Linked DNA regions of Homo sapiens. The protein of the gene in region 1 interacts with the protein of each later gene in a pairwise test. Each region holds a gene or a part of one and is shown on either strand. Other genes may lie near its edges.

Region 1 (7,027 bases):
GGTCCGGCGCGGCTAAACTGACAGAGCCTGCCAGACAGTCATAAAATTATAATTTCTTAAAAATACTTTGTAGCTACTTCAAAATTAATACTAATGCGAAAGAAAGTTAGTATTTCCCTTAGAAGTAAACACAAAACATTCACTGCCTCATTAATTCAAAAGCCATCATTCGCGGGGCTTCCCAGAATCGGTGTGCCAGCTCTGCTGCCGCCCCGGAGCCCCGGCTGGAGCAGCTATGGCCTCTTCTTCCGCAGCAGCTGCCCGTTGCCTTCTGGCCTGCTCTTGGCTTCTGGCTGTGCGAAGTTCCAGTCCACCGGATTGAGAAGCTGCTGAGTCTTCTTATGGGTCCAATATGGATTAATGATTAGCGTAAGCAGAGCCAGTCCGACAAGGAACAGTGTCAAATGAGGCAGATACAGGCTGCTGACCAGGCCGTCCCAGTGCCAGAAACACACCCACCACATGTGGTAGGTTAGAACCATGCGGCAGTGAAACATGTGAATCATCAGCCACTGGTTGAGCTTCCAAAACAGAGACTCGGACCAGCCCGCCTGCATGGAGAGAAGACAAATGCACAAGTCAATGCGAAACTGCCAAAATTCATTCTTCACATCACAAAAAGGTATTTGCTACCTTACTTACCAAACAAAACAAATTCATTTCAAAGCAAAAGAATTTCCTCCCCAGGGCTCTGCTCTCATTGGGACTTCATTCTGAAAGGAGGCCACCAGCTCTGTGGGCGCACCTGGGCCAGCAGGGCTGACCCTTGCCCGCTCATGCTGTTTTCCTGCTCCTCTTGCTCTTTGGCTTCTGCTCCCTAAAGCTATGATAAATTCAACCTTTCTTTCAGTATCCCTTCAATCTTTGTTTTATCTTGAATTTTCTCATATTAAGTAAATAAACAATACTTATTTGGCAAAACCAGACACAGGTATATCAAGCTCCCATACCTAGACCCTGGGAAGTGATGAGGTCATGGGGGTAAGGCCCCATGATGAGATTAGTGTCATAAGAAGAGAAAGAGACCAGAGCCTTCCCCTCCTCCATGCTAGGACACAGCCAGAAGGTGGCCATGTAAACCAGGAAGTGGGTCTTCACCAGACATGAATCTGCTGGTGCCTTGATCTCAGACTTGCAGCCTCCAAAACTGTGAGAAAGGAATTTCTGCTATTCCAGCTGCCTAGTCTATGGCAGTCTGCTGTGGCAGCCTGAGCTGACTAATACAGTATACCTCCCCGGCAAAATATTCTAACTTGGGCCAGGCACGGTGGCTCACGCCTATAATCCCAGCACTTTGGGAGGCCGAAGTGGGTAGATCACTTGAAGTCAGAAGTTTGAGACCAGCCTGGCCAACATGGCGAAGCCCCATTTCTAATAAAAATACAAAAAAATTAGCCAGGCATGGTGGCGCACCATGTAATCCCAGCTAATTTGGGAAGCTGAGTCATGAGAATCATTTGAACCTGGGAGGCAGAGACTGCACTGAGCTGAGATCGTGCCACTGCAATCTAGTCTGGAGAAAGAGCAAGACTGTCTCAAAAAAATAAAATAAAATAAAAAATTCTAACACGTTCTTCTGGTGTTTTTGAATATTTAAAGCCCCAGGTATATTAGCTGTTATAGACAGTCCCCTACTCACAATGGTTTGACTTACAATTGTTTGATTTTATGGTGCAAAGATGATACACACTCAGTAGAAACTGTACTTCAAGTACCCACACAACCATTGTTTCAACTTTCAGTAGAGCATTCACTGAATTACATGAGCTGTTCAGCATTCTGTTGTAAAACAGGCTTTGTGCTATATGATTTTGCTCAAACGTAGGCTGATCCAAGTCTTCTGGGCATGTTAAAGGCAGGCCAGGCTATATACCATGATGTTCGGGAGGCTGCACATTTCTGACACAATATTTTTAACTTATGGTGGGCTTATTGGGATGTAACCCCATCCTGAGTCAAAGAGCATCTATTCTAAGTCTGGACTGAAAAAATTAATGTGAGGACAATTAGAAGAGAAAGGCCAGCGGAATGGAGTAACCCAGCCTGCCTCATACAACTGTCACGGGAGTCCTTCCCAGGTCTCAGAGGGGACCTCAGGGCTCTCGCATGTGCATCACGGCACCCTCATGCACACACACGCCTTCAGAGACCGCCAGTGCGGCTTTCCACAAACATACCAAGCACTTAGTTCACCCCAACCCCAGGTGCAAATGAAACACTCCCACCTGTGGTTGGGGCCACCTCAAGGTGGGCCAGGACCACATGCTTCACCGCACTCAGCATTGCTGAGGCACAGTGAACACTCAGGAAGAAGAGCAGAGGAAGCAGGATCCAAAACAAGCCTGGAGCCTCCAAACTGAATGGGACAGGGGAGAAACCCACAGACCAGAAGAACCTATGGCTGTCAGTTCCGGATGGTTAAGTGACATGGGATTGAAATGAAATGTGAAGAGTTAATACTATAACTTATTTCTTACTTGTGAAATTATAGAGTTAGGCTACAAGTTCTTGGAGGTTTTTGATATGTCCAAAGCAAAAGTCACAAATATAGCTGGTTCTCAGACCCTGGGGTGACTGCAGATCCTGGTTTGCCTGGGGCAGTCCCTGACATCCTTGTCTGGGTGGTAAACAGTATAGTCACTCTGACAACTGGCCACAACCACCAGGTCCATAAGTGGTGAAGGACAATGCTGGACTTTGGCACAGGCAAGTTTTCGATCTCACACCTCCCTCAGACCCATAGCGGCAGTACCAGGTGGGCCCACACCCAGGTGAGGCTGGACAACTGCACCTACAGCAGTGCCCAGGGCTCAGCGCCTTTATTTCAGTCAACAACGCACAGTGTATAGACAGTGGTTCCACACAAGATTATAATGGAGCTGAACAATTCCTATCATTTACTATTTTACTATACTATACTTTTTATCATTATCTTGGAGTGTACTCCTTCTCTGATGAAAATAAAGTTAACTATAAACAGCCCCAGGCAGGTCTTTCAGGAGGGTCCAGAAGAAGGCACTGTCACCATAGGAGGTAGCAGCCCCATGTCTGTTACTGCCCCTGAAGTCTCTCCAGTGGGACAAGGTGTGGAGGTGGAAGACAGTGATATGGATGATCCTGACCCTGTGCAGGGCTGGATGAATGTGTATTTGCATCTTAGATTTCAACAATTTAAAAAAAAGTTTCGAAAATTAAGAAAAGCTTACAGAATAAGGGTATAAAGAATATATATATATACACACAATGTATTTGTGTTTTAAGCTAAGTGTTATTACAAAAGAGTGGAAAAGTTTAAAAAATTAAAAATTTATAAAGTAAAAATGTTACAGTAAGTTAAGGTTACTTTATGATTAAAGAAATTTTTTTATATAAATTTAGCATTGCTTAAGTACACAGAGTTCATAAAGTCTATAGGAGAGTACAGTGACGTTCTAGGCCCTCACACTCACCACTCATTGTGACTCTCGCAGAGCAGCTTCCAGTCCTGCAAGCTCCATTCCCAGTGAACGCCCTGCACAGGTGTGCCATTTTTCATCTTTAACATGGTATTTTTACTATACCTTTCTATGTTTAGGTATGTTTAGATACACAAATATTTACAGTTGTGTTACACTTGCCTACAGTATTCAGTACAGCCATATGCTGTACAGGTATGCAGCCTGGGAACAATGGGCTTTGTCGCATAGAGCCGAGTGTGGAGTTGGCTTAGACATGTAGAAAGGTACTCTATGACGGCCACTCGATGACAAAATAGCCTAAGGACACATTTCTCAGAACACAGCCCGTCGTTAAGCAACGTATGACTGTACATGGAACGGTATCACACGCTGTGTACTCTTTTGCGTCCGGGTAACGTCTCTCACCGTGTCTGTGTAAACCATCCAGACTGCTGCCCACCCTTCTGCTGCGTGGACAAACTCAGCTCACAAGCCCTTTCCACTGATGATGGGACTTCAGTAGGACTCAGTCTGAGGCCAAATGAACAGCGTGGCTAAGACAATCCAAGTACCCCTGTTCGAGTGAACATGTGGGTGCACTGCAGTCAGGCACAGACCTATGCATGGAGCCGCAAGGACACCAGAAGTCTCACACGCTGTTTTCCTTTGCTAGTTATCAAACTGAAGACACTCAAGCATTTATCAAGTAAACAAAGAGCTGACAAAAACCAAAGGAAAGACAATGCTCCTTCTGCCACGCAATGGACTGCAGCATCGCTACACAAACGTGCGCCCCTCACAGAGTCCAGATTCCAGAACCTTCTGTCATCACGTGTGTGTGTGTACTGGAGCAAGGCCACACACACATCTGCCCGCACAGATTTCACCTTCCAGAACCTTCTATCATCATGTGTGTATATTGGAGCAGGGCCACATGCATATCCAACCCTCACAGATTTCACCTTCCAGAACCTTCTGTTATCACATGTGTGTGTACAGGAGCGGGGCCACATGCATACCCAACCCTCACAGAGTTCACCTTCCAGAACCTTCTGTCATCACATGTGTACTGGAGCATTACCACACATACAGCTGCCCCTCACAGATTCCAGCTTCCAGAACCTTCTCTGTGAACAGAAGCACAGTCACATGCAAGTATCCCCCTGACAGATTCCAGCTTCCAAAATCTTTTGTCATCATTTGTGTGCCGGGGCACTGCCACGCATGTGTGCCCCTCACAGATTCCAGCTTCCAGAATCTTCTGTCATCATGTGTGTGGAGCACCACCACCCACGTGTGCCCCTCACAGACTCAGCTTGCAGAATCTTCTATCGTGTGTGCTGGAGCACCACCACACACGTGTGCCCCTCACAGATTCAGCTTCCAGAATCTTCTGTCGTGTGTGCCGCACCACATGCATATGTGCCTCCCACAGATTCCCACTTACGGAAGACTGAGAATCGTCTTTGTTATGACCCGGCACCTGGCACAGGGCCTGCAAGAGTGCTCATTGCTCCTCAAGAGAGCGTACAGTATCAACAGGAGTGAAAAGAGTGTGTGTCTGAAGACAAAACACTGAAGAGTCGATGTTCTGAACATCAGAATCCTCTACAGTAGCTGGAAGGCCCCACACAGTGATGAACTGTACAGTACACTGTGCACTCAGCCCCAGACTCTCGCGAGCTCAGTCTTTATTCACTCACCATTCCCTCACAATTCACAAAAAGTTCTCCTCCACCATTTTCCTCACTTACTGAAAGTAGTCATCTTAAATTACCAATAGTAATATCAGAATGCAATCACTACCTTAAGTTTAGAAAACTCAAAGCTTGAGAACCGAAGAGTTCTTTGGTTTTACTAAGGCACTAAAATTTTTGTAGTCAAAGTCACCAAAGGCTTTGAGAAGAGTAGCAAAATCTACAGGAACAAAATCTGTGACATAACACATGCAAAGCTCTGGAGCCCGGCAGTTACATCTATACTTAAATATACAGTCACCCTCAGTATCCTTGGGGGACTGGTTCCTGGGCTCCCTGCAGATACCCAAAGCCACGGATGCTCAAGTCCCTTATATAAAATGGCTTTGTATGTGCATATAACCTAAGCACACTGTCCCTTACTCCTTAAATCATCTGTAGATTACTTATAATACCTAATACAATGTAAATGCTATATAAAATTGTTACATTTTATTGGTATTTATTTGTTATATTTTTTATTGTTATATTATTTTAAATTTTTCCCAAATATTTTTGATCCACAGTTGGTTGAATCCAGACACAGAACCCATGGATACAGAAGGTCGACTGTATACATACATATATATACACACACATGTATATATACAAAATATATAAAAACTGACAGCGGGTTGTGTTTTTGTTTGAGATAGGGTCTCACTCTTGCCCAGGCTGGAGTGCAGTGGCGTAATCACAGCTCACTGTAACCTTGAACTCCCAGGCGATCCTCCCACCTTAGCCTCCCAATTGGCTGGTACTACAGACGTGTGCCACTATGACCAGTTAATGTTTGTATTTTTTGTGGAGACGAGGTTTTGCCATGTTGCTGGTCTTGAGCTCCCGGGCTCAAGTGATCTGCCTGCCTTGGCCTCCCAAAGTGCTGGGATTACAGGTGTGAGCCACCGCACTTGGCCTGACAGTGCTTTTATATCACCTCATTTGTATTATGAACTAGTGAGTCTGTGGATAAATAGTAGAACCAAATCTAAGACAGAAATACGAAGAATAAGCCACTGTGCTTGACTTAGACCCCCATCCTAAATTGATGGTAATATTTTGTCTTTACATCCTTTAGTTCTGATCAAATCAGACCTTGATGGGGGAGAAATGTTGAATCCTCATGCCCTACTACTATGCAAGAATCTATCAGCTTTAAAAGAATTTCAAAGAATTTCAACATTTTAGACATAGTGTTTTCTTACTGCATTTATTAGTATTTCAACTAGAGCAAAATAGAACTATGTAGACATACTGGCCCTGAGCTATATTAATTTAGGTTATAATTTTCTCTTATTAGGGTCTGTTGGCTTTATACAGTTAACATGAGCAGGGTTAGAAGTAAATACTTAAATAACCCTTTCTCCATTCTACACAAACAGCACCCTAAAAGCTTTAGAGAATGTGCAAACTTCAAAATAAAATCTCGCTGAGTCTGTCCTCCTGGAGGCTGGGCTCCACCACCACACCAGGGGAGGGAGAACTGCTGGAGACGCTGTCCCCACACCTGGCTCCAGGAGAAGCACAGATAAAACCCTGGAGAAATCCAACACTGCTTTCCCCTGAGGACTGGAGAGACAGAAAGACTCACGTCTTTCTTGTTGTTTTTAAAGAACTTGTAATAAAAATAAAATACAAGATAACTATTAATCTATTTCTCAAAATACACTAATGACCTCAAGCACACCATCTTGTGGGATGTATTAATAATTTAGTCACTATTTACCACTTGGGACATTGATGTGGTATTGATGTTTAGGGCATCGATGTGAGTGAGCGCCTCTGCTTTCCTTTCAAGAACTTTATTTTCTGCCACAGCCGAGTGACTCCTGAAGTCCGGTGTTTCCAGGTGAG
Region 2 (7,027 bases), on another chromosome or scaffold:
GTATATATCATACATTTAATTACATGGATTATAATTTACAACATAACTTATTACTAAAATACTCTGGCATATTTACCTGCCTCTCGCTAACGTTCTTACATTCTTTACAAACAATCTGGTTAACAATGGTTCCATGGTACAGACGATAGATGAGGTCATGACCGGAGGTCCCAACTAAAGAAGTTTCCAAAGCGCTGAAGAGGATTCGATTCAGTTCCTGCACATCATGTTGCCTCATTTCCTACAAAACAGGTAACTTTTAGATGTAATTCCGGGCTTCAGATTTTTTAAAACATTAAAAAAACAAACATTAGTCAATAAAAACTCAAGATTTATCAAGCAATCTGAAGATCAGATATAAGAATGACTCAGCAAAACAAGCTGAGCTGGTTAAGAGATTACCACCTATTTTTATTTATACTAAAAAATGAAAATATGAACAGGCTGGGTTCAGTGTGTACATGTAACTCAATTCCTTTGACACCCAGAATGTGCATTTATTCTTGTGGGAAACCACACACATGGCCATGCCACAGAAAGCAGAGAGGGATATACCAGGCACAGACCAGTGTCTAAGAGCTGGCAGTGTCTGCACAGGAACACCTCACTGAGATCAGAGCACATGTGAATAGTCCGAATTATCAACAATAGAAAAGAACTAGAATGTACTGCTTTGAAGTAAAAACAACTAAAACAAGACTAACACAGTGTTACTGAGAAAAAAATCCTGATGGAACTTGCTTTAATCCATTATGAGTCACGCAGTTGTGTGTGAACTTGTGCTTAAGAAAAATTTATAACCAAACCAAGGGGCACACCAAGACTGAGAAGTGGAGAAGAGGAGGAAGAGCAGCTGGGGGGAGGGCCAGGAGAGTGAGGCCCCAGGAAGCAGGAGGAGCTGAGGCTTTAAGGAGGGTGGTGAGTGCTGCTGAGAGCTCCTTCTGCTGAGAACAGAGAAGTGTCTTCTGGACTTGGCACAGGGATGTCACTGTTGACTTCAACCAAAAAAGTAGAAAGGAAGGAGAGGAACAAATGGAGAGTTCAGAAGCAGAGGCAATAAGGGAAGACAATTTCAAAAATAAGTTTCAACCAAGAGCAATAGCTCATGCCTAAAATCTCAGCTACCTGGGAGGCCGAGGCAGCAGGATGCCTTGAACCCAGGGCTGCAGTGAGCTATGATCATGCCATTGCACTCCAGGCTGGTGACAGTGAGACCTCATCTCAAAAAAAAAAAAAAAAAAAAAAAAGTTTTGTGTGAAGAGCAGCAGATAAAGTGGATGAAAGCTGGAGGACTTCTATCTTGCCTTTTAAAATACAAGACCCTCAAGGATGTAATTTATCTAATATCACTGGCTATGATGGGATAGAAAACTTGTGGAAGTTTTCAAGCTCTGTTCCTAAACAATCCTACACTTCGCAAAGGTACCACAGAGACCTTCTCCTACCACTGCAGGTCCAGTCCTAGAGGGTTTTCTGCAAGATCTTATTTAGACAAAAAACAAAAAAAATTTTCACAGCATTAAGAAGAAACCAGCAACTTAGTGAAGCTCATTATCAAAAACAAAGAAAAATCTATCAACCAATGACTAGATTAAAAAAAAAAAACAAAAAACATGTGGCATATCCATCTAATAGAATCTCATTTGGCAATAAAATGGAATGAAGTATCGACACATACTACAACATGAATGAACCCTGAGAACAGTACTTTAAGTGAAAGAAGACTGTTACGAGACCACCTATTGGATCACTCCATTTCTATGAAATGTCCAGAATAGGCAAATTCATAGAGACAGAAAGGAGGTCAGTGGTTGCCAGCGGCTGAGTTGAGGGGGATGGAAAGTTACTGCTAACGGGTATGGAGTTTCTTTTTGGGGTGGTAAAAATTTTCTAAAATTGATTGTAGTGATGGTTGAACAACTCTGTGAATATGCTAGAAAGCACCACTGAACTGTACCACTTAAAAGAGTGAATTCTGTGGCATGTAAATTACATCTCAATACAGTGTTTTTTTTGTTTGTTTGTTTTTGTTGTTAATCGGATTAACGCCAAATACCAGCCCTACACCAGAAATTTAACATACTTGTTTAGGGAATGTATTATACCCCATTTTGCTTGAAAGTCCATGCCTTACCTCCTTAATCACATAGTTAGTATCACCTAGTTAAGAAGTGTTCCTGGTTAGAAGACTACCCTTCAGAGTTTACCATTAAAGGCAATATAACAGTATTCCTATCGTTTGCTCTTTAACTTCTGTGACAGTTGCCTATACCTGTCTTTGCAGGATTACATCCATCTATTCCATATAAAAATGGTAGACTGGGATTTGTTTGGATTTGTATAGCTATAACAGCTCATCAATATGTGCAACAAGCACCTTTACTCATTGCTGACAAGTGTGTAGTGTTCGTATACAGTAGAATGCCTTTTAGAACTCAAACAGGAAAGTGAGAGAAAGCCCACATACAACAAGATTCATAAAGAAAATGGAGAAGGTCAGGAGAAAGTCAGGACAGGAATAAAAAGACCTGCCAAGAACCATTTCACTTTTTTGACTGAAGCAAACCTTCAAATCAGAACATGTGGATTCAAACACAAAGCACATAACAAACAAAGAATTTTTAAAAATTTACTTACAATGTAATTGATCCATTATTGTTGGTCAAAGACTAAAAAACTGATCAACAGTTTCCTATATAAATGGTAGGTAATCTCCATGTAATCGGTGTTGTATCTCAACTAGACTACATAAAGACTCTTAGGGTAGAAATTGTAAAAATCAGCTCTTGTACTTCTCCCCGTTTTTCCAATCTTCTCCCCAGCCCCAAATCACAGCCATTCATAAAATCCTGTATACAGCAAGTGTCTAAAAATATATATTTCTGGCTTGTAATTTTTTAATGTGAGAAGGAAACATTCAAACAATATGTTGAGACCCTAAGACAAAATTAAAGGAAGTTAGATAACATTAAACCAGCCTTATTCTTTCCTCTATTGCTGGTAACTCTTCCTTAAAGAGCTGATCCTCGTACCTCATTACTGGTCCACCCAAAGCTGTCAGTGAGGTCTGCTGTGGATGCAGCTTCCTGGTCTAAGAGCAGAAGCTGAGCAAACAAGCGCTGTAACTGTAAAGGGATGATTCGAACCTGAATGAGAAACAAACACATTTCTAAATGAATTCTTTAAGTGTTGACTAAGGCTTTTGAAAACAACTGCATACTAGCTTTTTTATATCTCCCAGTTCATTCAGGAGAAAGTTTATAAATATCCTATTATAAGGGAAAAACTAATTATGATTCAGTTCTTCTGTGAAAATTATAATGCAATCTAAAAAATAATAGTTATTTGGAGTTTTCTACCTTGATATGGTTCAGACAAACATTAAAACTCAAATAGGCCTTAATAAACCACTCAACTGATTACAGATTGACAGTAGTTTGAATCTCTTCTAATAGTCCATTATTTCTCTAAAATACCTCTGATACACACAATTTCCCCTCTGTAGAAATTTTCCAGGCACAATACTGTATCTCGCTCTGGAGTTCTCAGCACACCCTGCCTCACTTTCTCCTGGCTCCAAGTGAGTTCCTGCCTTACTTGATGTGGTGAGGGCTGGGGCAGACTGAGCAATGTTGCTCAGAGTCTGGTCTGTAGGCTAGACTTTAAGTATTTAAAGGAGAATAAGCATTTAGAAATTGTAATGGCAATTTGACATTCCCATGGCATTTTTATTATATACTAGAAAAGTGCTAATCTGCAACAGATTGGGAATAAAAAGAAATACACAAAAACAGGTCCTTTGCCACACAGGTAGCCTGAGAAGTACTGGGCTAGATCATGAAAGACTCCTAAGAAGTACAAATTTGAGCCTGAACATGGTAAGAAACTTTTGAGTTATGTTTAAGCAGGGAGGAACATGATTAGATATGCACTTTAAATATCACCACAATAACAAACAAAATAATTAACTCATTACTCAATTTATTTCCAGAGTACCAAATTGAAAGAATACTAGCCTCTATTTTTTTTTGTGTGGGGTGGAGAGGTCGGTATTGTTGCAAAAAAAGTGCTTTAAATAGACTTCTGGGGGAAGCTAATGTGGATGTTCTGCAAATATTTCCTTCACCAGAAGAAAGAATAAGCATAGTAAAGAGTGTTACATGTTTATAAAGCAGTAGCAGTATTGTACTTGGAAAACTGATTCTTTCTCGGAAGGCAAATTCCATTACCCATAGGGTATAGGCCAAGTCACTTTCTGGAAATAAAGAGCATATTTGATAATTAATAAAATTATTGCTTTGTGAACAAGCCACTTAATTCCTTCTTTAAAAAAAATTTTCTGAATACGCTAAAACACCCCAGTAAATCATAGATGTAATACCTTTGCATCGGGTTTATCCTTATCTTCAAACAAACCAAGCTCTTCTGGGCCAAGAGAAAATAAAGTTCATATGGAACCAAAAAAGAGCCCGCATCGCCAAGTCAATCCTAAGCCAAAAGAACAAAGCTGGAGGCATCACACTACCTGACTTCAAACTATACTACAAGGGTACAGTAACCAAAACAGCATGGTACTGGTACCAAAACAGAGATATAGATCAATGCAACAGAACAGAGCCCTCACAAATAATGCCACATATCTACAACTATCTGATCTTTGACAAACCTGAGAAAAACAAGCAATGGGGAAAGGATTCCCTATTTAATAAATGGTGCTGGGAAAACTGGCTAGCCATATGTAGAAAGCTGAAACTGGATCCCTTCCTTACACCTTATACAAAAATCAATTCAAGATGGATTAAAGACTTAAACGTTAGACCTAAAACCATAAAAACCCTAGAAGAAAACCTAGGCATTACCATTCAGGACATACGCATGGGTAAGGACTTCATGTCTAAAACACCAAAAGCAATGGCAACCAAAGACAAAATTGACAAATGGGATCTAATTAAACTAAAGAGCTTCTGCACAGCAAAAGAAACTACCATCAGAGTGAACAGGCAACCTACAAAATGGGAGAAAATTTTCGCAACCTACTCATCTGACAAAAGGGCTAATATCCAGAATCTACAATGAACTCAAACAAATTTACAAGAAAAAAACAAACAACCCCATCAAAAAGTGGGCGAAGGACATGAACAGACACTTCTCAAAAGAAGACATTTATGCAGCCAAAAAACACATGAAAAAATGCTCATCATCACTGGCCATCAGAGAAATGCAAATCAAAACCACAATGAGATACCACCTCACACCAGTTAGAATGGCAATCATTAAAAAGTCAGGAAACAACAGGTGCTGGAGAGGATGTGGAGAAATAGGAACACTTTTACACTGTTGGTGGGACTGTAGTTCAACCATTGTGGAAGTCAGTGTGGCGATTCCTCAGGGATCTAGAACTAGAAATACCATTTGACCCAGCCATCCCATTACTGGGTATATACCCAAAGGACTATAAATCATGCTGCTATAAAGACACATGCACACGTATGTTTATTGTGGCATTATTCACAATAGCAAAGACTTGGAACCAACCCAAATGTCCAACAATGATAGACTGGATTAAGAAACTGTGGCACATATACACCATGGAATACTATGCAGCCATAAAAAATGATGAGTTCATGTCCTTTGTAGGGACATGGATGAAATTGGAAATCATCATTCTCAGTAAACTATCGCAAGAACAAAAAACCAAACACCACATATTCTCACTCGTAGGTGGGAATTGAACAATGAGAACACATGGACACAGGAAGGGGAACATCACACTCTGGGGACTGTTGTGGGTTGGGGGGAGGGGGGAGGGATAGCATTGGGAGGTATACCTAATGCTAGATGATGAGTTAGTGGGTGCAGCGCACCAGCATGGCACATGTATACATATGTAACTAACCTGCACATTGTGCACATGTACCCTAAAACTTAAAGTATAATAATAATAATAATAAAAATACCTTTGCATCGGGTTTATCCTTATCTTCAAACAAACCAAGCTCTTCTGGGCCAAGAGAAAATAGAGCTTCTAAAGAAAAAGGTAGAATCAGAGATGCAAATGACATCATTTCATTTTAAAAAATTGTTTTAGAAAGCCAAGACCACCTTTAAGTAAAATCAAGTAGATTCAGAAATATGATTGTGGCAATATTTATACCTTACTCTATACACTTTACTTTCTTGTAACATTTTTAACCAGTGACTCTAAGAAAATAGTGTCATGCTAAGGCTTCAGCATTTCCTAATTCTAGGAAAGGAAAATAATCTTTATGCATAAAACTAAAAACAGTAACATCAGAAATCTTTCATGGCTTCCCACTGTCTATGGCATCAGGTCCCAAAAGCCCAAGAATCTCAGGAAATACAGTAGTGTTGCAGTTTTCCTGCCACATGTAAGGCTAACAAACATCCTTTCGTGGGAAGGATCCTCTTTTACTCTGAGATGCCCTTTTTTTTGGTGTGAAAATGTCTTTTCCGTGTTGAAGGTAATAACAGATGGCAGTGGTCTTATCTGGAAAAAGAAGTTGGCAACCCCATGCGAGTCTCCAGAATTTCTTTATCACCCAACATCTAGGTGATGTGCCACCCAATGGGGCATACCTGAATCTTTTGAGAAGTCTGTATCCGAGCCTAGGTAGGAACTCTTACTGGGAAACTCTGATATACTCTAGGGATACAAGGAATGGGATAAATGTGTCTCCCTATTGAAAAACTATTGCTACCCTAGTGCTTACTGTTAATGAATGTTATATTCTTTCTAAGTGCTGGGACTCGGCAAAAATGAACTACAAATCTACAAGTTAAAGCATAAAACCATACAAAAACTTTTATAATAATCTCCCAGTACTCTCAGCTACATTGTAATGGAGTACAATGGAACCCAATGTAGCCCTATTATTTAAAATACTATTCCAAAATTTCCCCCGCCAGTTCTCTGACAGTCCTTATTCTTTCCAAATTATACCTCCCTGTCAGTCACCATCAGGATTCAGGCTAAGCTATACAAGCAGTGCACATTGTGCACTAAGAT
Region 3 (7,423 bases), on another chromosome or scaffold:
TTTTTTTTTTTTGAAGAGACGAGCTTTTGCCACATTGCCCAGGATCGTCTCGAACTCCTGGACTCAAGGGATCTGCCCACCTCGGACTCTCAACTTGCTGGGATTACAGGCATGAGCCACAACACCTGGCTCCACAAATTCTTAAAGTTCAACAATAAGAAAAAGACATAAGATCCTAAATGTGTACACACCAACAATAGAGTCTCAAAATACATGAAACAAAACCTGACAGAGCTGAAAGGAAAAATAGATAAATTTACAATTATAATCAGGGATTTCAACAACCCCTTCTCAAAAATTGATAGAACTACTAGACAGTACTACTATAGAAAACAAGCAAGGATATAAATAATCTGAACATAAACAACAGGATCTAGTGACATACATATAACATTCCACCCAACAAAGCAGAATACACTTTTTTTTCCCAAGTATCCACAGAACATGACCAAGATAGCTCGTGTCTTGAGCCATAAAACAGGCCTCAACAAATTTAAAAGAACTGATATCACAGAGAGTTTGTTCTCCAATCATAACAGAATAATGGAGTCAAAATAGAACTCAATGCAAAGTCAGAGAGTCCAGGACAGTCCAGATGCTACTGGGTTAGTGACAATAAAAAGAATACCCTCTGGAAACTAGACAGAAAGTTCCAAAACTACTCTCAATGTAGCTGAAACATTTTATATCTGCATTAAAATTCTTTTCCATAATGTACTTTTATATTTCAGTAACAGCAAATGAAAAATGTTATAGACATAAAATGGATTTCAAAACACATCTGTAGTAAGCTGACTTACAAACCAACTTTTAAAATACCACATATTAAATTGAGGCTGTAAACTTATAATTTATAATGAAATGAAAACTTTACCTTCCAATGGAATGTCTAAAAGATTGGCATGCTTTGTTTTCACATGAGTTTCCATATCTTCACTGTGCTCCTCTATTTTTCCACAGAATGGACATTCAGGAGGACTGTATGTTGTTTCATAAACAGATCCTTTTATTTCGGTCAGGCTGGACTGTTTTTCCCTACTTTTCAGGAATTTTCTAGATTCAGTTAAGTTCTCTGAATAGAAGCCTTCATGTTTTAAAGTACTATCTTTAGTCAGGTTTTGAGCTGAATTTTTTGGATGATTAGATGCACAACCTGAAAGAATACTTGAATTAACTTCCATTCCACACTGTAGGGTGTTGTCTTTCTTGTTATCTGAAGTTCCATATTGTACTGTATTTATCCTCTCAAAGTTTCTTTCAAGTGTATTCTGCTCAAAATGAGCTGTTTCGATATGAAAACACATTTCATCATAATTCACACCTGACAACTTGCAAAATGGACATATAATTTCACTTTCCATGTGAACAATTAGGTGAGCTTTCATGTCTGGTTCTGAGGTTACTGTTTCACCACAAATATTACAGGAAAGCATGGTATTGACAAGTAGCTAGAAAAGAACATAACATTAGGTTTCAAAGATTTGAAGAAAAAATGTGTTTCATAAAATGATTTGAGACAATTACTTGGTCTTTAACGCTGGATTATTTTGATGAAGAAGTTTTCAATGTACTTACTGTTCCTCAAATACAAAAACTTATTTATAAATATCAACCAAAATTTCATTTATTTTTTTTTAAAAAAAGGCAATAATAATGAATACAAGTAATTTTAAAAATAAAATATTTCAAAAAATGTCTCTGGCCCAAGGTGGAGAAAAAATAACGTTTAAAAAATTGTCCAGGTAAGATAAATCAGGTAAGAAAAAAATGAAGAGAAGAAACCTATTTATCAACTGATATATCTAAATACTGAATACTGAAGCTGATTATATTGAGGAGGTAAATAAACACATCTTACAAGTAGAGTTTAACACTGTAAACTTAGAGTCTTACATGTATCAAGTGCTATTTAAGTGCTATTATTGTAATTTAAGTACTATTATTATCGCTCTACACATAAAGAAATTCTGGCTCAGACAGGTCACCACAAGCAGAAAAAGGTGGAAGCCAAAATGCCAACCCCGTCGTGCTCCACAGCCTGTACTCTCAGCCCCAAGAATAAAAGCAGAAGTGGTATAGTAGAAAAAAGCACTTATTCCAGAGTCAAGAGAACTGGGTAATAATTTCAGATTCATCATTTTGGGTAAGGAATCTCATCTCTCTGAGGTTCAGTCAAAGACTACTGTAAAATCCAAAGGTAGTTATTTTTGGATTTTATGGACAAATAAAGTACTGACTACTGACATAAAAGTGTTAAAAAAATAATTTTAAAAAAAGCAATCACTTCGCCACCACCTTCCTACTACAGGTCATCGTTCAGCTAAAGACTATTTAAAATCAAACAGGAAAAGTAATGACACTATCACTTCATTTAAATAAATTTACCTTTAAAATACCTCCCTACATTGTCCTTATTTTTTTCATTTCTCTCCAGACAAATGGATACAGTCTCTGATTTTAGAAGGCAGTTCTCCCGAGCCCCCAGTGGGATTAATGTCACACCCGGAGTTTCTTCTCTTCCGGTGGCTGGGACACGGTCAGACACAGAATGATGAACTTGGACATGGACTCAGATTAAGCGGGTAAGAGACAAGAGAGTACCCAGGTGCCTCAGAGGAAGCGAGTGAGAGGCATGAAGGACCCAGTGCCAAGCTAGGTACGTGGTGGGTGAGGTCAGAAGACCGCAAGGCCGAGTCTCCCAAACGTTCCGCGCCAAAGGCACAAGCCAGGCACACGAAACTAGCAGGCACTAACTGGGTCAAAGCTTTGGGCCTGGGGAATAAGGGAGGGGACCATCAATTCTTACCGGCCCAGAGGCCAGCAGCTGCCACACTGAGCTCCGCTAGGCTTCCCCTTTGGGCCTCGCTGGCAGACGAGTGCGTGCGCGGCGTCCAGTACCTCTCCTGGCCTGATGACTGAGGCCAGGCCTTCCCAATACGCAGAGTTTCACAGTTAACCGAGGAAAGAATTAGGAACTTCCAACACCTTGGCCCTCAGTACCTCATTCAAAAGCACTTCCTTACTCCCACGGAAAAGAAGTAATCCCAGAATGCGCCGCTCCACGCCGGTCTCTATGCAGTGCATTCTGGGAGATGTAGTCTTTTTTTTTTTTTTTTTTTTTTGAGACGGAGTCTCGCTCTGCTGCCCAGGCTGGAGGGCAGTGCGCGATCTCGGCTCACTGCAAGCTCCGCCTCCCGGGTTCACGCCATTCTCCTGCCTCAGCCTCCCGAGTAGCTGGGACTACAGGCGCCCGCCACCATGCCTGGCTAATTTTTTGTATTTTTAGTAGAGACGGGGTTTCACCGTGTTAGCCAGGATGGTCTCGATCTCCTGAGAGATGTAGTCATTTTTGCATTCCTCCCATTTCCGAGTTTTTCCTTCTCCCATCGAGTTTCCTGCCACTCAATTGCTAGGAGAGAAAACCGGGCTCTGAGGTCATTCATACTTAATCTGAATGAGTTCACAGGGCAGGTCCTGGGGCAAATAGCAGTCTACACTAGGGCCTGCTGAGTAGCACTCTATTTTAGTATCAATAAAGGGTTTATAATGCTGCTAGGTATCAAGCTCCCAGCTATGCACCGAAGGTAAAGGATACCAGGTTCTTTCCTCAAGGTTACAAGATAACAAATATCTTGGTTTGTATGTATGTATGTATGTATATATATATATTTTTTGAGACGGAGTCTTGCTCTGTCGCCCAGGCTGGAGTGCAGTGGTGCCATCTCTGCTCACTGCAAGCTCCGCCTCCCGGGTTCACGCCATTCTCCTGCCTCAGCCTCCCAAGTAGCTGGGACTACAGGCGCCCGCCACCACGTCTGACTAATTTTTTGTATTTTTAGTAGAGATGGGGTTTCACCGTGTTATCCCGGATGGTCTCGATCTCCTGACCTCGTGATCCGCCCCCCTCGGCCTCCCAAAGTGCTGGGATTACAAGCGTGAGCCACCGTGCCCGGCCGTATGTATGTATTTTTAGAGAGGAGGACTCTTTCTGTCACCCAGGCCAGAGCACAGTGGCTAAAATAGCTCACCGCAGCCTCGAACTCCTGGCCTCAAATGATCCTCCCATCTCGGCCTCCCAAAGTGTGAGCCACCATGTTAGCCCAAAATCACAAATATCTTGTCATTCAGGCTTTATTTCATTCAACAAATATTTAAAGAGTGTCTATTAGAAAGGCGTTTTGCTTGCAACAGGAGCTGCAGCAGTAATCAAAATACACAAAATTCAGGATTTTTGAGGCTTACATGCTGGTGAGGTAGAGGAAATAAAAAGTAAATTAACTGATCATGATAAGTGCTATGAAGAAAATAAAACTGGATTGGCCAGGCTCAGTGGCTCACATATGTAATCCCAGCACTTTGGGAGGCCGAGGCGGGCAGATCATTTGAGGTCAGGAGTTCAAGACCAGCCTGGCCAACATGGTGAAAGCCCGTCTCTACTAGAAATACAAAAATTAGCTGGGCGTGGTGGCAGGTGCCTGTAATCCCAGCTACTCGGGAGGCTGAGGCAGGAGAATTGCTTGAACCCGGGAGGCGTAGGTTGCAGCGAGCTGAGATCGTGCCACTACACTCCAGCCTGAGTGACAGAGCAATAGATTTTTGAGACTGAGTCTCAAAAAAAAAAAAAAAAAAAGAAAGAAAGAAAGAAAAGAAAACTGGATTATAGAGATACGAATGTTTAGAAAAGGTCTTGATGAAGGGTTGAGTGTGCTGATGAACAAACCTTACACCAACAGGGGAAATAGCATTTCAGACAGATAAAATAACAAGAACGAAGGCCTAAGGCTGGAGCAAAAAGAACACTTTTTGACCAGAGCATAATGTGGTAAGGAGAAAAATGATTACAAGATGAGGTTAGGGTTGTAGACAGGGGCCAAATCATGTAGGACCTGGTAGAAAACTAGTGAGGTATTTAAATAGGAGGGTGATGTTATCTGATGATAAATAGTATGTTTTTAAAAATTGGCTAGGCGCGGTGGCTCACGCCTGTAATCCCAACACTTTGGGAGGCAGAGGCGGGCAGATCGCATGAGCCCAGGAATTCCAGACCAGCCTGGGCAACATGGAGAAACCCGTCTCAACCAAAAAAATACAAAAATTAGCTGGGCGTGGTGATGTGGCCTGTAATTCTAGCTACTCGGGAGACTGAGGTGGGAGGATCACCTGAGCCCCAGGAGGTTGAGGCTGCAGTGAGCCATAATGGCACCATTGCACTCCAATCTGGGCGACAGAATGAGAACCTGTCTCAAAAAAAAAAATCGTTCTGGAAATTTGTGGACAAACATGGAAGATTAAACATGTAAATTTATATTTCTCTGCCTCTCAAAATCTATTAAAATGATAGCAGGAAAATAAAAATAATACTACTAACAGCTAATGAGATTTTACAAAACTTTGAAAGCTAAAAAAAGATGAATGATTAATAACGAACTTAACTCAGAACCGATGTCAACAAAAACCAAGTCAAGTCATACTGTCTTGACTTGTATGGGTTTCTGCTTGCCCAGCACAGCAGCTGGGGTCTGCTTGCCCAGCACAGCACAGCCAAACACTGACACTGGGATAGCAGCAAGAGAAAGTTGAGGCATTTATTGTAGGGCACCAAGGAAGGAGAATTGAGTAGCTCATGCTTAAGACCTGAACTCCCACATTGCTTACAGGTAAGAGTTTTTAAAGGTGAGGAGGCAGAGGTTACAGGCGACGTCATAAATCAATACACGGAAGCTATACGTTGGTTTGATTTTAAAAGGCTGGACATCTTGAAGTGGTTCGGGGCACAGGTTACAGGTGGATTCAAAGATTTTCTGACGTTTGATTTGCTAAGGAGGCAAAGCTTTGTCTAAAAATTTGGGATCAGCAGAAAAGAATATTAGCTCTCGCTCAGGGGTGTGATCTCCTCCAGGCCCCTCAGGAAGAAATTCAGAACAAAGAACAGCGATCAGGATTTAGTCTTCAGTTTCCCATTATCAGGGGTCAAATCATGTTGGACAGTAGATCTGTTTGGTGGGGGATCTGGGTTTCTGGAAAACAACCCAGGGACATATGTTAAAATGTTATCTTAAGTTTCTATAGGGAATAAAACATCTCCTGACTTTTTTGGGCCAATGTTTTAAGCTACTATTACCTTTTTGTTTATCAAATTGCTCATTTATTTCTCAGCGCTAGCTAGGTTCCTGGAATTTTCCTTGAAGGAACTCAATATTTTCCTTTATTTCCATGCTTGGGGGTTGCCCACGGGCCCCTAAGTAGGGTCCCTACTCCATCTTAATACACTCCTCCTTCCCAGAAATCTGAAAATTCCAGAAATTAAACACAAGATACTTCTAAAAATGATGGTGACATTTGGAACTAAATAAAGGATCATTTTACTGAAAGTCTGAATAAGGAACAGTTAGAACTCCAACTCTAGATTTTCTCCATCACCAGTGTGATGGTTAATTTCTCCTGAAACATTATTTCTTATTATTTCCCAGGAAGCTCCCGCCAAATGAGGGAAGAAGCAAAGAAAGTGGAAGGTATGGGGCCAGGCATGGTGGCTCACACCTGTAATCCTACACTTTGGGAAGCCGAGGCAGACAGATTGCTTGAGCTCAGGAGTTTGAGACCAGCCTGGGCAATATGGTGAAACCCCGTCACTACCAACTTGACTGAATTGAGGGATGCCTAGATGGCTGGTGAAGCATTGTTTCTAGCTGTATCTGTGAGGGTGTTTCCAGAGGAGATTGACCTGTGAGTCAGTGGACTGAGAGAGGAAGACCTACCCTCAGTGTGGCAAGCACCATACAGTCAGCTGAGGGCTAGGCTGGGGCAAACAGGAAAGAGAGGGAATTCTCTCTCTTTGCTCTCTCCCTTCTGGAACAAGACACCTTTTTCCTTCCTGCTTTTGGACATCAGATTGCACCATATTCATCTTTTAGACACTGGGATTCGCACGAGTGGCTTCCCAGGAACTCTTGGGCTTTTAGCCTCAGAGTGGGGGCCAAACCCTCTGCTTCCCTGGTTCTGAGGCTGCTGGGACTGAGCCACATTACCAGTTTCTCTGGTGCTCTAGCTTGCAAGATGGCCTATTGTGGGACTTCCACCTCTGTGATCATGTGTCAATTCCCTAATAAATTGCCTCTCGTATATAGTATTGGTTATGTCTCTCTGAAGAACTCTAATACAGCTAGGTTGCCATGAGACTCCTCTTTCCCTTCCAGATAGAAGACTACAGATTTAGTTCATGAAGAAAACGAACCAAAAAAACCAGCTATGAACCCTATCCTGGGGGTTCAAAGGCTTGACCCTATCCTTAGGGTAAAGGCACTGGACTGAAAATGGGAAATAGGGAAGGCTAAATACTAAATTATGAACCTCTTGCTCCTTTTCCCCCATCACATCTTGATATGTGATTTCTGCCTCCAAGGCAGGAGGTTGGAAAATTCCT
Region 4 (7,027 bases), on another chromosome or scaffold:
CTGGCAGGATTCGAGGAGAGGGCACTTCTGCAGCCCCCAAGCAAGTCTCTAGTTTTCGCCCCAAAGTGGATGCACTTTCTAACTTCAGCAAGGCCTCCTCAGGAGGATTTGCTTTCCGATGTGTAGTAGCGGTACAGGAAACCTAAGAGAACAGCGCCTATGATGGGTAAAATCCAATATGCCCAGCAACTAGGAATAGGGGGAGAAAGCAATAAAGTTGTTAATATTTTAAGCCAAATGTTCACTATCTTTCAGCTTTCACATGTTTTTATATAGGCAAGGAGTTTTTATTTACTTTGGGAAATTTAACTGCTTTTATCACAAAGTAGTTGGGGAAAAATATTTGAATTGGAGTGACAATATTACAAAGTAATTTTTTAAAAGGTTAAAAACAACCAATAGTATGATATCAAATAAGATGTCTTTAAATGCCTCTATATGTGTTTCTACAAAGTCATATAGTGGTTATTTCTGAGTTAGGGATTATGGATACTCTCACATTTTCTTCATTGTGCTTTTGCTTTTCACGTATTCTACAATTAAACATTTTTAAACAGGAAAAAACACCATTATGTATGTGACATTTCATATATGTATAAAAACATATCCATCCCAATATAAATTTGGAAGTAATCATATCTAATATAACTACCAGAAATATCCTATCTGCTTCATATGTATTTTAAAGATTTAATCCTTATGAAATAGGATAACCTACGAAATAGGGTTATTATTCTCATCTCATACAAGGGAAATATAAGCTTTGCACCCCAAATCCCAAAGCTAGAAAGGCAGCTGGACAGTCTGATTCCAAACCCATCCTCTTAATCCCTAGTTAAGTTTGGACACTAATAAGGATACACATACACACAAAGCATATACAGTTCTAACAGGGTGAAGCAAATGGCAGCTTCAAAAGTACTGCAAGAGACCTTCCTTAGGAGCTTCAGAACAGTCATCATTCTCCTTAACATAATAATTCTTTAATAGAACTTATTAGCACACTAGTTTTAAGGTATAATTCTTCCATGATCCAAATGACCCGGCTGCCCCTCTACTTAAGACATATGAGTCTTGGTATTAAAAGGTTTTGAAGTCAATAAAACGAGCTGAAGTTCATAAGAAAAATGATTCTCTTTGCCTAAACATGCCTAGCACTCTGTATGCTTACGTACAGCAGAAAGCTACTCTGGACTAGTTTAGAATATCAGCCAGGTAGCTTTGTTTACAAAACCAAGCAATATGGCACGTATAACAGCAATATGCACATGGGAACTCTGAAGTAATCTCCTGATAAGAGTAATGAATTCAGACTCCTTGAAGAGTAACCGCAAGAGACTGAAGAATCCAAAAGTAGGATCCTTGAGAAAACATTGAAGGAGAAAATTTCTTTCTTTCTTTCTTTTTTTTTTTTTTGAGACGGAGTCTCATTGTCACCCAGGCCGGAGTGCGGTGGCGCGATCTTGGCTCACTGCAAGCTCCACCTCTGGGGTTCACGCCATTCTTCTGTCTCAGCCCGTCCTCGTGATCCACCCACCTCGGCCTCCCAGTTTGCTGAGACTACAGGCATGAGCCACCACGCCGGCCAGAAAATTTCTTTAGTACAAAAGACTGAGAATGGTTGACACCAATCCTCACATAATCTTTCCTAATACTTAACTGCCACTGAGGAGAGAACCAGAGGAAATACATTTATACTGCATCACAGGAGATTCAGGTTCAACAATAACTTCCTACCATAAGACAGATTTTTCTTCTTGGAGATCCATCTAGACTACTACATGTTTGTGATTCCTTTATTTTTATTGTTTTGTAGTATTCCATTGTATGAATATACCACAATTTATTAGGGTTGTCTCTGATGTTTGAATATCTCGAATAACACTGCTATGAACATTCTTGCATATATTTCTGGGTGTACCTGGGCACACATTTCTATCAAGTATATCATTAGAAATGGAATTGCTGGGTCAAAAGTTAAGTCATCCTATCAAATTTACTAGATAATGCCAAACTGTTTTCCAAAGTGATTATACTCATTTACATTACCCTAGGAGTGCTTAAGAGTCGGTGATAAACTTTCCAACCAACTCTTATTTGCAAAATTTTTAATTTTTACCAATCTGGTTAGGTATGAAATATACCTATGATTTTAATTCACATATCACTAATGATGAATGAGATTAAACCTCATTTCCATATGTTTACATTTGTGTTTCCTTTTCTGTAAAGTGCTTAAATCTTTTTCTCATATTCTACTGAGGTTTTAAAAAACTGATTTGTAGGAATTCTTTATATCTTCTACCTAATAATTCTTTATCAGTTTTATGCTTTGCTTAAGTCTAAGTTTTATAGCATAAGCATAAGGTTTGGTTTTTTTTTTTGAGATGGAGTTTCGTTCTCGTTGCCCAGGCTGGAGTGCAATGGAGCGATCTTGGCTCACTGCAACCTCCACCTCCCAAGGTTCAAGCGATTCTCCTGCCTTGGCCTCCCAAAGCTCGCACCACCATGCCCAGCTAATTTTGTATTTTTAGCAGAGATGGGGTTTCGCCATGTTGTCCAGGCTGGTCTCGAACTCCTGACCTCATGATCCACCCGCCTCAGCCTCCCAAAGTGCTGGGATTACAAGCGTGAGCCACCGCGCCCGGCCCTGCATAAGCATAAGTTTTGTTTAAAATCTGCAATTTTGTGGCTTGTATTTTCAAAATTTTTATGCAGCATTTCGCTGATCCTAAGCCCTTAATATTAAGGAAACTAAATTTACTAATAGTTTGTAATTTTTTATACTGTGTCCGTTACCTCAAGTAATAGATCTGATACTTTATGGGAAAAAAAGACATATTTTCTTTCTCTGAAATACTTCGAGATGTCCAAAAAATAGAATGGCTAGCTCTATATAATCTCCACAAAGATACTGTACAAGCCAAGGATTCCACAGTCATTTTAGATAGAGGCACTTAAGGTAAGGCAATTTATAACTTTCAGAGCTAATACTAATGAATTACTAATATTAATGCCAAGGAATATATTGTAAATAAACCTGAGAAAACCCAAATTCCTAAATATGACCGTAGTATTTTTTTCTCCTGCAATATGTAATAATAGCACTTACCTTACAGAGTGGTTGTGAGAAGTAAATGCGATTAAGTTTTAAGTAGAATCATGTAGCTGGGTTGAACTTCGGGACTAAAGGCTGACCCAATAGTAGCTACCTGTCCATGCATCCTGGCCTCTTACTGAGTGTGATTCCAATTTATGTCACAATAAGATTAAAAAATGACTCAAGGCATGAAACTTTTAGATTATTCAAAATGGCTGAAACTGTAAAAGTTAATTTTTCTAATGTCAAGGAACAACTGAATTTGCAATGATTTGGGCCAAAAAAGAATTAGTTGTCAAACTGCACTCATAAGTTATGTTACATACATATACTTATGGAAGAGTCTCTTGCCAGACATTACCTTGAACGTATGGAAAGCTGTTAAGGAGATACTAACCTTTTGCATGTATCATTTTTTGAAGGGTCCTGAAATAAAAAAAAAAAAAAATTCAAAAATAACAAACAAAAAGAAAGAAGATTAACATAGCACATGTACATTTTCTTGATCAAGCTATGTCAACCCTGTAACTGATACCAGAACTTCATCTTTCATGCATTTTGGTGTTTACAAATATATAAGCAATGGATAGACTGGGAATTTTATTTCTGATAACATACTGGCACTTCACTAGGTTCCTTCCTAGTGAAGAATCACTAATGAAAGCATAGAAATGACCTAAACTTTTTTAGATGTTAAAAAATGTTAATGATACAAACTATATTGAAATGGACTACTCTGTGGTCATGATGATGTACCTGGTTCAGCTGGGCTTGCCACTGGCAATAGCTAACATCACACTTTCTAAAAACATTTTTTAAAGTCCAAAAAGCTCTTCTAACATGTAGATCAACTGTGAAATGCTCTAGATCATACAGATGATTGCTTGTAGATCACAAAAATATACTGGTTCACTCCTTGAAATCATAATAATTATGACAGGAGACCTTAGAATTGATTTCACAATGAAAAGAGAAAAAATGGAGTCAAGGGAAAGAAAATGATAAAATAATCTTAAAAAACAAATCTTGGCAATAAAAAGTACTGAAGTATTGATATATGCTACAAACTTCACAGCATTATCCTAAGTGAAAGAAAGCAGACACAAAAGACTACATATTATATAAATCTGTTTACATAAAATGTTCACAACAGGACAATCAATAGAGTTAGAAGTAGATTAGTAGTGGTTGCCTAGGGCTGGTGTGAGGAGGACGAGTTGTGGGGAAATGGAAAACGACTGCTAATGAATATGGGGTTTCTTCTTGGAGTGAGGAAATTGTTCTAAAATAGACTGCACAGTTCTGTAAATACACTAAAAACCATTGATTTGTACATTTTAAATAGGTAAACTGTATGGTATGTGAATTGTATCACGATAAAGCTGTTATTACAATTTTTTTACTCAATTCAAGTATCAAACGAGTTATTGATTCCATTAACCAGCTGTATAGTACAAAAGGCCTGCTAACTTACTGCCAGAGGACAATAACCCTTTAGCATAGGTTGCTGCTGCCCAAAATACCATCTTTGCAAAATGTAGAAGTATATCAGGGTATGAACATGGAATATTAGCTCTGCTTAACCACCGTTTTCAATAATCTCCAAGAATTTCCAGAAACCAATCACATTGGCCCCAATATACTTTAGAGCAGTCCATGAAATGAGTTTTAATTTCATATATCCAAAACACTGTCATGCAAATGAATACATGCCCCAAACCTGAAAGAAATTAGTCTGTAGGCAAGAAAAATGGCAAACGAAAGGTTTTAAAGAAACCATATTAACATACTTCTATACTTCTTTAAGACTTTAATGATTATCATTATCTGGGACATTTCAACTAGTCTAGTAAGGATCCGATTAATTAAAATGAGTTACAAGTCAATCTTTGAAAAATACAACAAATGTTACTATCTACAGATTCGGAAGGTAGGAGTGGTAGCGATGGTAGTATGTGCATCAAGTTAATTTATAATGCTGCCTTTTAAAATAAATATTCCACTACAGTAACCGAGAAATAATTGAATTCCATCAAGAAAATGTTCATGGTCTTTTATGCTTTAGCTACATAAATACCAATGATTTATAGACAAAAAATGTAGTTACTATTTTTAAAAGGGATAATTTGAAAGGCTTATATGAGAGCATCACAGCATAATATATGTATTATGATGTTTAATCTATAATTAGAGTAAAAATCATATACTTCATATAAATGGATTCTCTAAATTTCAAAGCTTTTAGCCTCTTTTACAATCAAAAGCCCTGGATCTCTGCTAAGTAGGGTGAGCCTTAGAAAAAGGTAATAAGCAACTGAAGAAGAAAGAGAACAAAGACAGCCAAAACCGTACTATGCTGAAATGTAAAAATTTCTAAACAATAAATAACTTAAAACATATGGTGTTCTTTGAACTAAGTACTGCAAAATGTGCCTGTTTTAAGATCAATCCATCCCTGGGGACGCAAAAAAAAGACCAACCTGTCTAACCCATTAAAGGAAAGAGAAGAGAAAGAGGCATACACTCCCTTTAGGATACTGATAGCCAAGTAGATGCAAACCATAGTGACCCCACTTTTAATCAAATACATAATAATCAAAGAGATGTTGAAGGCACAGCTCTTAGCAGCCAGGACTCTCAGCCAAATTTGGAAATAAACCAAATCGCTTGTTTTTAAACTGAAATGAAAAAAGTTCTATTAACACATAACCTCCCTTCACCTCCACCCTTCCCCTAGGCACAGTTCCCCCCAGTCTTCATTTCCACAGCTAAGCACTAGACTAAAGCTAATGGATGCTTAAGTGAAAAGCTTACAGTTTATAGTTGACTTTAATTTATCCCTTCAGGTATTGAGGCATATCTAGCTGGTTATGTCCATGCCCAGATTTTAATGCTCTCAATCTTTGGCCTGGAAAGTAATAATTGCAATACTATGATTTTAGTTACAAGTGGTGAATCAAATCCAAAGTTCTTCCAGCATAACCCCTACCAAGCAATTAATATGCATGCTTCTTTTTCTTCGAAAAGCTTAGAATACACTGGCAAACAACAAAATTGCTGTGAGTTTTGGTATTATAGGTTCTAAAACAAATTGCTGTTAAGTCTACTCTGACTTTAGCTCAAAACTCATGGAAATTAACTGTTTAAATAAAACTGGTTCCTCAAGTTCAAGGTTCATTAAGGCTTTAATTCCCCACTAAAATAAATAAGTAGGGCTGGGCACCTTGGTTCACATCTGGTGAATCCCAACACTGGGAAGGCTGAGGCAGGAGGATCACCTGAGCCCAGGAGTTCAAGGCTATAGTGAGCTAGGATTGTGCCACTGTACTCCAGCCTGGAGGACAGATCAAGACCCTGTCTCAAAAATAAATAAATATATTTATATACATATAAACACAAAAGACGGACTTTTTAGGGAAAAAGGAAATATTTTGTAATACCTGAATAGAATATTTATAAAGCTGCTCAAAATTAAAATTATATCTAATATCTTCAAGCCCAATGTTATAAATCAGTTTCCTCGTTTGTAAAACGAAAAGCTCAGATCAATGTGAATTCTAAAGTCATATTCAATTATCTCAACACAATTTTCTGAGCCAAGGACATTGTGGTGAAACCTAGAGCAGCAGGCTTCTAAAGGGTAGAGAGAAGAAAACACCATTCTCTTATGTCTAGGAAGACTGAAGAAGCACTACCGTAAGTAGATTTTTCTCTCTTCCACCAGCTACATAGAGGAGTAATTTCCCAGATCCTTGTCGCACCATAAGCACTGACCCAATTTGATAAGATTAAGAGAATGACAAAAAGGCCAGTCGCGGTGGCTCATGCCTGTAATCCCAGGCATGAATTACATGAGAGGCCAAGGTGGGCGGATCACGAGGTCAGGAGATCAAGATCATCCTGGCCAACATGGTGAAACCCCATCTC

What was found.
Region 2: the proteins of CLN8 (region 1) and USP40 interact in a two-hybrid assay, tested with the Homo sapiens proteins (one study listed by BioGRID).
Region 3: the proteins of CLN8 (region 1) and ZUP1 interact in a two-hybrid assay, tested with the Homo sapiens proteins (one study listed by BioGRID).
Region 4: the proteins of CLN8 (region 1) and CYB5B interact in a two-hybrid assay, tested with the Homo sapiens proteins (one study listed by BioGRID).

What each region holds. Positions count from the first base shown.
Region 1 is NC_000008.11:1,773,774-1,780,800, reverse strand, and holds part of CLN8 (protein CLN8), read right to left. Parts: exon of another isoform or gene 5,605-7,027; intron 552-5,604; coding exon 234-551; 3' UTR 1-233. UniProt on the Homo sapiens protein: Could play a role in cell proliferation during neuronal differentiation and in protection against cell death.
Region 2 is NC_000002.12:233,556,779-233,563,805, forward strand, and holds part of USP40 (ubiquitin carboxyl-terminal hydrolase 40), read right to left. Parts: intron 6,026-7,027; coding exon 5,958-6,025; intron 4,489-5,957; exon of another isoform or gene 4,382-4,488; intron 4,256-4,381; coding exon of another isoform or gene 4,226-4,255; exon of another isoform or gene 3,965-4,225; intron 3,147-3,964; coding exon 3,033-3,146; intron 242-3,032; coding exon 77-241; intron 1-76. UniProt on the Homo sapiens protein: May be catalytically inactive.
Region 3 is NC_000006.12:116,665,760-116,673,182, forward strand, and holds the start of ZUP1 (zinc finger-containing ubiquitin peptidase 1), read right to left. Parts: upstream 3,008-7,423; 5' UTR 2,807-3,007; exon of another isoform or gene 2,386-2,806; intron 1,449-2,385; 5' UTR 1,434-1,448; coding exon 875-1,433; intron 1-874. UniProt on the Homo sapiens protein: Deubiquitinase with endodeubiquitinase activity that specifically interacts with and cleaves 'Lys-63'-linked long polyubiquitin chains. Shows only weak activity against 'Lys-11' and 'Lys-48'-linked chains.
Region 4 is NC_000016.10:69,455,592-69,462,618, reverse strand, and holds part of CYB5B (cytochrome b5 type B), read right to left. Parts: intron 3,527-7,027; coding exon 3,498-3,526; intron 190-3,497; coding exon 99-189; 3' UTR 1-98. UniProt on the Homo sapiens protein: Cytochrome b5 is a membrane-bound hemoprotein functioning as an electron carrier for several membrane-bound oxygenases.